Homo sapiens: one gene and its partner. The protein of the gene in region 2 purifies or fractionates together with the protein of the main gene of each other region. This does not show direct contact. Each region holds a gene or a part of one and is shown on either strand. Other genes may lie near its edges.

Evidence for each region. Proteins that work in one complex are often made in the same cells at the same time.
Region 1: the proteins of AAGAB (region 2) and TSKS purify together in Homo sapiens (affinity purification with mass spectrometry; one large-scale study listed by BioGRID and IntAct). This does not show direct contact.

What each region holds. Positions count from the first base shown.
Region 1 is NC_000019.10:49,756,006-49,761,477, reverse strand, and holds part of TSKS (testis-specific serine kinase substrate), read left to right. Parts: intron 1-3,598; exon of another isoform or gene 3,599-4,323; intron 4,324-5,472. UniProt on the Homo sapiens protein: May play a role in testicular physiology, most probably in the process of spermatogenesis or spermatid development.
Region 2 is NC_000015.10:67,251,862-67,255,933, reverse strand, and holds the start of AAGAB (alpha- and gamma-adaptin-binding protein p34), read left to right. Parts: upstream 1-1,272; 5' UTR 1,273-1,302; coding exon 1,303-1,375; exon of another isoform or gene 1,376-1,520; intron 1,521-4,072. Other genes in the region: IQCH (IQ domain-containing protein H), read right to left, coding at 987-1,037. UniProt on the Homo sapiens protein: May be involved in endocytic recycling of growth factor receptors such as EGFR.

The DNA.
Region 1 (5,472 bases), on a different chromosome or scaffold from region 2:
AGGAGGATGTCTTGCAACTGGACCTTAGTGAGTGAGTAGGAGTTCTCTGAGGGGAGTCAGCTAAGAATCTGGGGCAAAACTGAGAGATGAGCAAGATTTAGGGGGACTTAGGGAATTTCTGGCAAAAGTATAGAGGGTTACAAATGGGTCCTTTAACTCACTGCACCTCTGATCCTCACCCCCCACCTGGCTTCCCCTGGGCCAGGCCTAAAACAGGCTCTACCAGATACTGAGAACCACATTAACAATAGCCATGATCTTAATGATGCTGATAAGATTCACTAGCACTTTCTATGTTCAGGGAGCCCTGGTTTCCTCATCTGTAAAACGGAGATGCATACATTCGTTCCTTTATTTTTAAATTTTATTTATTTATTTATTTATTGAGACAGAGTTTCGCTCTTGTTGCCCAGGCTGGAGTGCAATGGCGTGATCTTGGCTCACAGCAACCTCTGCTTCCCGGCCGGGTTCAAGCCATTCTCCTGCCTCAGCCTCCCGAGTAGCTGGGACTACAGGCATGTGCCACCACACCCAGCTAATTTTGTATTTTTAGTAGAAACAGGGTTTCTCCATGTTGGTCAGGCTGGTCTCGAACTCCGGACCTCAGGTGATCTGCCCACCTCGGCCTCCCAAAGTGCTGAGATTACAGGCGTGAGCCACCACGCCCAGCTTTTGTTTATTTATTTTTAAGGCAGGGTCTTGCTCTGTCTCCCAGGCTGGAGTGCAGTGGCACAATCACAACTCACTGCAGCCTCGAACTCCTGGGTTCAAAGGATCCTCCCATCTCAGCCTTCTGAGTAGCTGGGACCACAGGCACACACCTGGCTGATTAAAAAAAAATTTTTTGTAGGCCAGGCGCAGTGACCTATAATCTCAGCACTTTGGGAGGCCGAGGCGGGTGGATCATGAGGTCAGGAGTTCGAGACCAGTCTGGCCAATATGGTGAAACCCCGTCTCTACTAAAAATACAAAAATTAGCTGGGCCTGATGGTGTGTGCCTGTGGTGGTGGGCGCCTGTAGTCCCAGCTACTGTGGAGGCTGAGGCAGGAGAATTGCTTGAACCCGGGAGGCGGAGGTTGCAGTGAGCCGAGATCACGCCACTGCACTCCAGCCTGGGCGACACAGCGAGAGTCTGTCAAAAAAAAAATAATAACAATAATAATAATTTTTGTAGAGACAGGGTCTCACAATGTTGTGCAATCTGGTCTTAAACTCAAGCAATTTTTGGGCCTCAGCCTCCCAAAGTGCTGGGATTACAGGAGTGCAACACCATGCCCAGCCACATTTATTCTTTTTAACAAATATCTCTTTTCCTTTCTTTATTTTTTGAGATGGAGTCTCACTCTGTAGCCAGGCTGGAGTACAGTGGTGCGATCTTGGCTCACTGCAAACTCCACCTCTTGGGTTCAAGTGATTCTCCCACCTCAGCCTTCCAAGTAGCTGGGATTACAAGAGCGCCACCACACCTGACTAATTTTTGTATTTTTAGTAGAGATGGGGTTTCACCATGTTGGCCAGGCTGGTCTCGAACTCCTGACCTCAGATGACCGCCCACCTCAGCCTCCCAAAGTGCTAGGATTACGGGCATGAACCACCGCACCTGGCCTCTCTTTTTCTTTCTTTTTATTTTATTTTATTTTTTTGAGACAGGGTCTCACTCTATTGCCCAGGCTGGAGTGCACTGGCATGATAATAGCTCACTGCAACCTCAAACCCTTGGGCTTAAGCGATCTTTCCACCTTGACCTCCCAAGTAGCTGGGACTGCAGGTGTACACCACCGTGCCCAGCTAAACAAATTTTTTTCTTTCTTTCGGTTTTTTTTTTTTTTTGAGACTGGGTCTTGTTCTGTTGCCCAGGCTGGAGTGACAGCATGACAGTCCAGGCACAATCTTGGCTCACTGTAGCCTTGGCCTCCCCAGGCCCAGGTGATCCTCCCACCTCAGCCTCCCGAGTAGCTGTAACTACAGGCACATGCCACACACCCAGGTAATTTTTTTTTTTTTTTTTTGGAAATGGAGTCTCGCTCTGTTGCCAGGCTGCAGTGCAGTGGTGTGATCTCAGCTCACTGCAACCTCCACCTCCCAGGTTCAAGCCATTCTTCTGCCTCAGCCTCCCGAGTAGCTGGGACTACAGGTGTGTGCCACCACGCCCGGCTAATTTTTGTATTTTTAGTAGAGACGGGGTTTCACCATGTTGGCCAGGATGGTCTTGATCTCTTGACCTTGTCATCTGCCTGCCTCAGCCTCCCAAACTGCTGGGATTACAGGCATGAGCCACCGCTCCCGGCTTCACCCAGCTAATTTTTTAAAAAAATATTTGAGGCCGGGCTTCGTGGCTCATGCCTGTAATCCCAGCACTTTGGGAGGCTGAGGCAGGCAGATCACCTGAGGTCGGTAATTCCAGACCAGGCTGATCAACATGGAGAAACCCCATCTCTACTAAAAATATACAATTAGCCGGACGTGGTGGCACATGCCTGTAATCCCAGCTATGTGGGAGGCTGAGGCAGAAGAATCGCTTGAACCTGGGAGGCAGAGGTTGCAGTGAACCGAAATCGTGCCATTGCACTCCAGCCTGGGCAACAAGAGCAAAACTCCGTCTCAAAAAAAAAAAAGAAACAACTAAGGTAGACAGTGGTGTAGTAACCTCCACAAGGTCAAGGTTGGAGGGGTTGTAAGAAGCAGGACCAAGACAAGAAGGCTGCTGCTTTTGTCACTAATGCAAAAGGGCTTTCTCTCCCCAAGACTCCCTTGGGCTGAGTGGGGGATGTTTGGAGGGGAGAGACTGAGGCAGGGAGGCCAGAGGGGAGCCTGGGCGAGGGTCCAGGGAAGGAGGAGGAGCTGCAGAGAACAGGGCAAAGAGTCTGGGCTGGGAAGGATGTCTGGGAGACATCTCCTCCCTCAGACAGAAGAGCTCTCCGCCCTGTCTTGGGGAGTGTCCCTCAGGCAGCACTTGCAGCCGTTTGCCTCCCACCAGAGCTATTTCTGAGTCACATCCCCCACTGGATCGTGAAGCCTGAGAAAGTACCCCAGGCAGCCAGGATCAAGGTCTGACACAGCTGCCAGCTCGCTGTGGGGCTGCAGGGGAGTGTCGGCCTCTAACGGGCTTCAAGTTCCTTCTCTGTGAAATGGAAAAAGTAATGACCTTGGGGTGCCTGCTGGAGAGGTGAGGGGGGCAGCAGGAGCTGGAACCAGCACCCAGCACCTGAGCTGCATCCAGAGAGAAGGCGGGGACAGGCAGAGAGAAGGACACAGAGACCCAGAGAGAGAGGGAGACAGAGACCCAGAGAGAGAGAGGGGAACAGAGACCCAGAGAGAGGGGAAGGGAGACCAGGGAGAGGGGGACAGAGACCCAGAGAGTGGGGGACAGAGACCAAGAGAGAGGAGGACAGAGACCCAGAGAGAGAGGAGGACAGAGACCCAGAGACAGAGGGGGGCACATGCCTGTAATCCCAGCTACTCGGGAGGCTGAGGCAGGAGAATCGCTTGAACTCGGGAGGTGGAGGTTGCAGAGAGCCGAGATCGTGCCACTGCACTCCAGCCTGGTGACAGAGTGAGACTCTATCTCAAAAAAAAAAAAAAAAAAAGAAGACAGAGACCTAAAGAGTAGAAAGGCAGAGACTCAGGAAAAATAAGTCAGAGACTCTGAGATTTGGGGGACAGAGCTGAATCAGGGTGAGACAGAAGACCAGAAATAGAGGAGGGGGATAGAGACCCAGAGAGAGAAGGAACAGACACAGGGGCTGGGTGGGGACAGAGAACTGGAAAGAGGGGGACAGAGAACCAGGCGGTGATGGAGACCCTGGTTGAGAGAGTGTCAGTTTCCAGGTAGGAGGAAGGACAATGGGAACCCTGTGAAGGTAGTTGTTAGTTATATCTCCATTTCACAGGTAGGGAAGCAGAGGCACAGAGAGGTGAAGTCCTCTCCATGAGGTCATACGGCTAGTAACTGGGAGAAATTAGTTGGCCCTAGGTCCTGTTGCCTTGGTTTCCAGAACAATTACCCACAGGAAACCCAAGACCTTCTGAGTCTTCAGGTTAGAAAGACACTTTGTGTAATGCTTTCTATTGCTGTGAAACCAATTACACCAAAACTTCAAACAACAAACTTGGAGGGGCTCAGCTGGGTGGGCCTGGCTCAGGGCGTCTCACGAGGTTGCAAACAAGATTTTGGCTGGGGCTGCAGTCACCTGAAGGTTGGACTGGGGCCAGAGGTTGTGCTACCAAAATGGGGCACTCACCTGCCCTTGGCTGGAGGCCTCAATTCCTTGCTACATGGGCCTCTTCATAGGTGGCTGCTTATGACATTGAGGCTATCGTTCCCTAGATGAAGAGAGAGCAAATAAGAAACAGTTCCTCTTATGAAGTAGTCTCTTACCTCACATATCATCAATTCTACTTTATTCTATTTTTTTATTTTTTGAGACAGAGTCTCTGTCACCTAGGCTGGAGTGCAGTGGCGCAATCTCGGCTTACTGCAGCCTGTGCCTCTCAGGTTCAAGCAATTGTCTTGCCTTAGCCTCCTGAGTAGCTGGCATTACAGGTGTGCACCACCATGCCCAGCTAATTTTTGTATTTTTTGTAGAAACAGGGTTTCACCATGTTGGCCAGGCTGGTCCTGAACTCCTGACCTCAGGTGATCCACCTGCCTCGGCCTCCCAAAGTGCTGGGATTACAAGCATGAGCCACCACAACTAGCCTGCCTTATTCTATTTCCTGGGTGTGAGTCACCAAGTCCAGCTCATACTCAAGTGAGGCAAATAAGGCTCCACGTTTTAAAGGAATGTGAAAGAATTTATGGACATATTTTAAACTATCACATTTTGTGGGATTTTTGTAGCTGCCCTTTATTGGGATGAGGAAGTTCCTTTCTTCCTTTCTATTTCTAGTTTGTGGAGTGTTTTTTTTTTTTTAATCATGAGTGGTATTTTGTCAAAAGCTTTTTCTCAACTGACATGATCATGTGTTTTTTTTCCCTTTTATTCTATTAATATGGTATGTAACATTTATTTGTTTTTAGAGACAGAGTCTTGCTCCATTGCCCAGGTTGGAGTGCAATGGTGCCATCATAGCTCACTGCAGCCTCAACCTCCTGGGCTCAAACAGTCCTCCCACCTCAGCATCCCAAGGAGCTGAGACCACAAGCACATGCCACTGTACCCAGATAATTTTTAAATTTTTTGGTAGAGATGGAGTCTCACTATGTTGACCTGGCTGGTCTAGAATTTCTGGCCTCAGGTGATCCTCCTGTCTCAGCTTCTCAAATTGCTGGGATGAGCCACCATGCCCAGTCATTGGTTGATTTTAGTATGTTGAACCAACCTTGCATTCCTGGGATAATTCCCAGTTGGTCACCATGTATAATCCTTTTTACATGCTGTTGGATTTGGTTTGCTAGTATTTCGTTGATGATTTTTGTGACCATATTCATAAAGGATATTGGTCTGTGGTTTTCTTTCTTTCTTTTCTTTT
Region 2 (4,072 bases):
TAAACTCATTGCTGCGTGATGGTGAAAGTGAGGGTGAGAAAAGATCAGGTAAGATTAGGTATGATTCTTAATGGGGAAGTCTATGAAATTGGTGAGTTCAGGGGCTTGTATTTGGGAAAAGGTACATTTAGGGAAGTCTCTCCTAGATGGGAGGTAAGAGATCAAAATTCTGCCAGAAAAATTAGATCCCTTTGACGAGTAAGACCCACTTCAGACCAACTGAGTGACAGTCCTGACAGAGTGACCTTAGACAAATGACTTCAAGACTTAGTCAAATGCAGCTATTATATATGTGATAGTTAAAACCGATGATATATGTGGAAATATCTTAAAGTTACCTCACATAAATGTGAAAACAAAATGCCATGATCATTTCAGAAACATCTGAGTGCAACTATTACAAATTGAGCTGTATTGGACAAGACTTTCTTGACATTTCCCCTCTCAAATTAAAAAGGTCTTTCACTAAGTTTTTAAATGTCACATTTTTTCATTCCAAGTTATCTTGATTTTTCTGTGTGTTCTCCAATGAGGAACATTTAGATCTAAAAAACTGGGGTGTTTAAGAAAAGCAATTCACATATTTCAATTTGTCTCCAAATTTCTTATCACCTCCTAGAGTGTCCGATTTGTCTCTCCTCCACTCCCGACGTCATGGGTTCAAATTTTTCAGAATATAACATTTAAAAATGATGCCTCAGCGTGAGGTTAATTTTTCTGAAGTAAAGGTTCCGGGTGAACGGTTTTAGAGTTTTCCCAGAGGCAGAAAGTCCTGCTTCTGGGGCGTAACCTACAGGGTAAGTCACCGGGAGTGTGCTGGGCCGTGGGGGAAGGTCTGGGTGGGCATTTTTGGGAGCCTCTCGCGAGTTGGAGGGAGTCTAGGGGCGGCGCACCAAATGGGTGAGCGTCGGTGAATCGGCGCGCGGGACCTCGCTCGGAAGTGGCGCGGCTGGGCAGGGCAGGGCCGGGGGAAGCCCGTTTCCCACCTGGATTAAGATGGATCCGACAGGGTCGTGGTTTTCAGTGTTCTGTGCCATGGCTAGGTCAGGGAACGGCTACCTCCGCGGAGGCGCGGTTTCCAAGCACGGAAACCTTCAGCCGGAGCCGCTCGTCCCCATGGCAACACCGCGCGCGACCTGGCCTGTTCCACGCTGGGAGCGGAAGGGGGTCTAGGGGCGGGGTCAGGCCAGCCTGGTCATTCCGAGAACGCCCTCTCCGGCCTGTCTCCCCCTCGCGCCGGCGGCCGTGGTGCAGCCCAAGGCGGAAGCGGCTGCCTGACGGAACCGGCTCGCGAGCGCAGCTATGGCTGCTGGCGTACCCTGTGCGTTAGTCACCAGCTGCTCCTCCGTCTTCTCAGGAGACCAGCTGGTCCAACGTGAGTAGATAGGCGCCTGGGCCGACCTCCAAGGCCCCTGAGCCTCAGCGGGCGACGGACCCAGCACCACGGCCTCTCTGGGCCTTGTCCCCGCAGCGGGCCCTGCGTTCTTCCTCCAGTCAGTGGAGGCGCCCAGTCTCCCCAGGTGGCTGCCCCTATCTCTTAATCTCGTGCTTTTCTGCCCACTCGGCCTTCTTCGGCGTTCCTTTCGGCTTCCTGTGTAAAGTGAGACTGATTTCCCGCTCTGCTCAGCCCAGGCCACAGGTTTTTGCGAGGATCCGTTGAGATGAACCTGAAGGCTCTCCGGAAATTGCGCTAGGTTACAGGAGTGTAAGGTGCTGGAATTGTTGATATCGTGATGTTGTTATCCTTGCTGCTCCGGGAGAGAGTGTTTACTCTGAATTCTGAAGTTTATTCTGCGTATTTACTCTGAAGTTTATTCTGCTTCTTAATGTGTACATTATAAGACTTGTTAGCTTTGTCCGCTCCACTCTAGTTATTCACGCCTTTCATCTGAGGCATGGGCTCTCCGCCAACATGAGTTTTTGGGTATGATTGGGCTAGTGCTTTTGCTTGTAGACCCTCATAATGGCTGTCAGACTTACTAACTCTTAAAAGAGAGAACATGGGACTGGATAATAAGCCAACTCTACTAAAGGGCTCTGTGAAGTTGAATTATAGGTAACTCAAGACTTCTGTTTTAAGTGTATGGCTTAGAATCAGAGCAGTGACTTAGCTGTATGATCTCGAGCAAGTCACCTAACCTACCTACATTCCTTCCTTCTTTTCTTTTTTTTTTTTTAAAGAGACGGGAACTTGCTCTGTCGCCCGGGCTGGAGTGCAGTGATGCGATCATAGCTCACTTCAGCCTCGAACTCCTGGGCTCAAGCGATCCTCCTGCCTCAGTCTCCCGAGCAACTGGGACTGCAGGCTCACACCACGAACCCTGGCTAATTTTTTTATTTTTTGTAGAGCCAGAGTCTTGCTATGTTGCTCAGGCTGGTCTCCAACTCGTGGTTTCAAGTGATCCTCCTGTCTTGGCCGCCCTAAGTGCTGAGATTACAGGCGTGAGCCACTGTGCCTGGCTACCCTTCACTTTCTCTTTTCTCTCCTTTTTTTTATTTTTGTTTTGAGATAGGGTCTCACTCTGCTGCCCAGGCTGTAGTGCAGTGGCGTTATCTCGGCTCACTGCAACCTCTGCCTCCTGGGCTCAAGCCATCCCCCTACCTCAGCCTCCCAAGTATCTGGGACTACAGGTGTGTGCCACCACGCCCGGCTAATTGCCCCCCCCCCCCCCCGTCATACGGGGTTTGGCCATGTTGCCCAGGCTGGTCTGGAACTCCCGGGCTCAAGTGATCTGCCTGCCTTTGCCACCCAAAGTGCTGGGATTACAGGTGTGAGTCACCACCGCGCCCGGCCCCTTCACCTTCTATCTATAAAATAGGGATAATTTTCGCAAGATTGTGCTTATCCCCGAGTCTGGCACATAGTAAACATTTGATAAATCATAGACATTATTATTAAGGCACATTACTATCTCTGTAACCCTCAATTTCCTGATCCTTAAAATGGGGCATATGAGCCTATTTCAGGAGTATTTGAAGGACAGATGATGTGACATTTTGAACACACTTTGTAAACTGTAAAGCATTGTATAATTATAATTTCTTTGCTACACCTGTCAAATGACAGAATTAGGTAAGATGTCCCTTCAGTGCAGATATTATATGACTTAGTTATCATTTGTGATCACTTAGAAAGTTCCTTGCTAGGGTAAAAGCTTAATTATAGCATTTAACTAAGTGGTTACTAACTGGTCTAATTAGGCCATTTTCTTACCTTTAAGCAGTGCTCCTTCCTATTTTCTCCCTTCCCTCCTTTCTTCCTTCTTTTCTTCCTTCCTTCCTCTTTTTTCTTTAATTGTTTCATTGTAAAACTAGTGCATACTAAGTAAAATTTAGCATACAGAGAAAAGAAAATAGCCATAGTCTCATTACCCAACTACAAATACTGCTAACATTTCTTTCCAGTCTTTTTTTCCATTGCAGTTTCTTAAAAAGAAATAATTGTAATTACATTTAATACACAATTTTTTCTGTTTTTAAAAATTTTTTAAATACACAGTTCTTATCCTCAGATTTATCAAAAATTAGTTTCTCACATATATCCATCTAGTGAATAAACCAGAATTTGCTCAAGATTCTTAAAGATGTAACTAACTTTCCAAAAGACTTACATGCATTAGGAATCCTATTAGCGATACATGGAAGTCTTTTCAAGACAATCTCAGGAATATTAATTATTCTAAATGCTATGGTGCTCTGTTGTGTGCTTTAATGATCCCAATCGGCAAACATGGTCCCTGCCTTGAAGTAGCTGATTACCTGTAGTTAGCAAATAGTAACATTGTACTTCTGTAAAGTGTATTAGCATTATTGGGGGTAAAATTAATTCTGTAAAATAATCCATTTTATCTCTGTATATAAAATGCTCTTAGATAATTCCAGTTCGGGTTAAGATCAGATGACCTTTCCATTGCAACTCGTTACTGTCGTGTAGTAAAAAATAAAAGAAGAACAGCTAGTGAGCAGATTACTTGAATAAGGAAAAGTGAACCATAAAAGAGGGCTTATAATTTCTTCCAAGGTTGTGAATAGGGTAGCAGTGGATAGCGTTAAAATGAAGTATTTGCTGAGC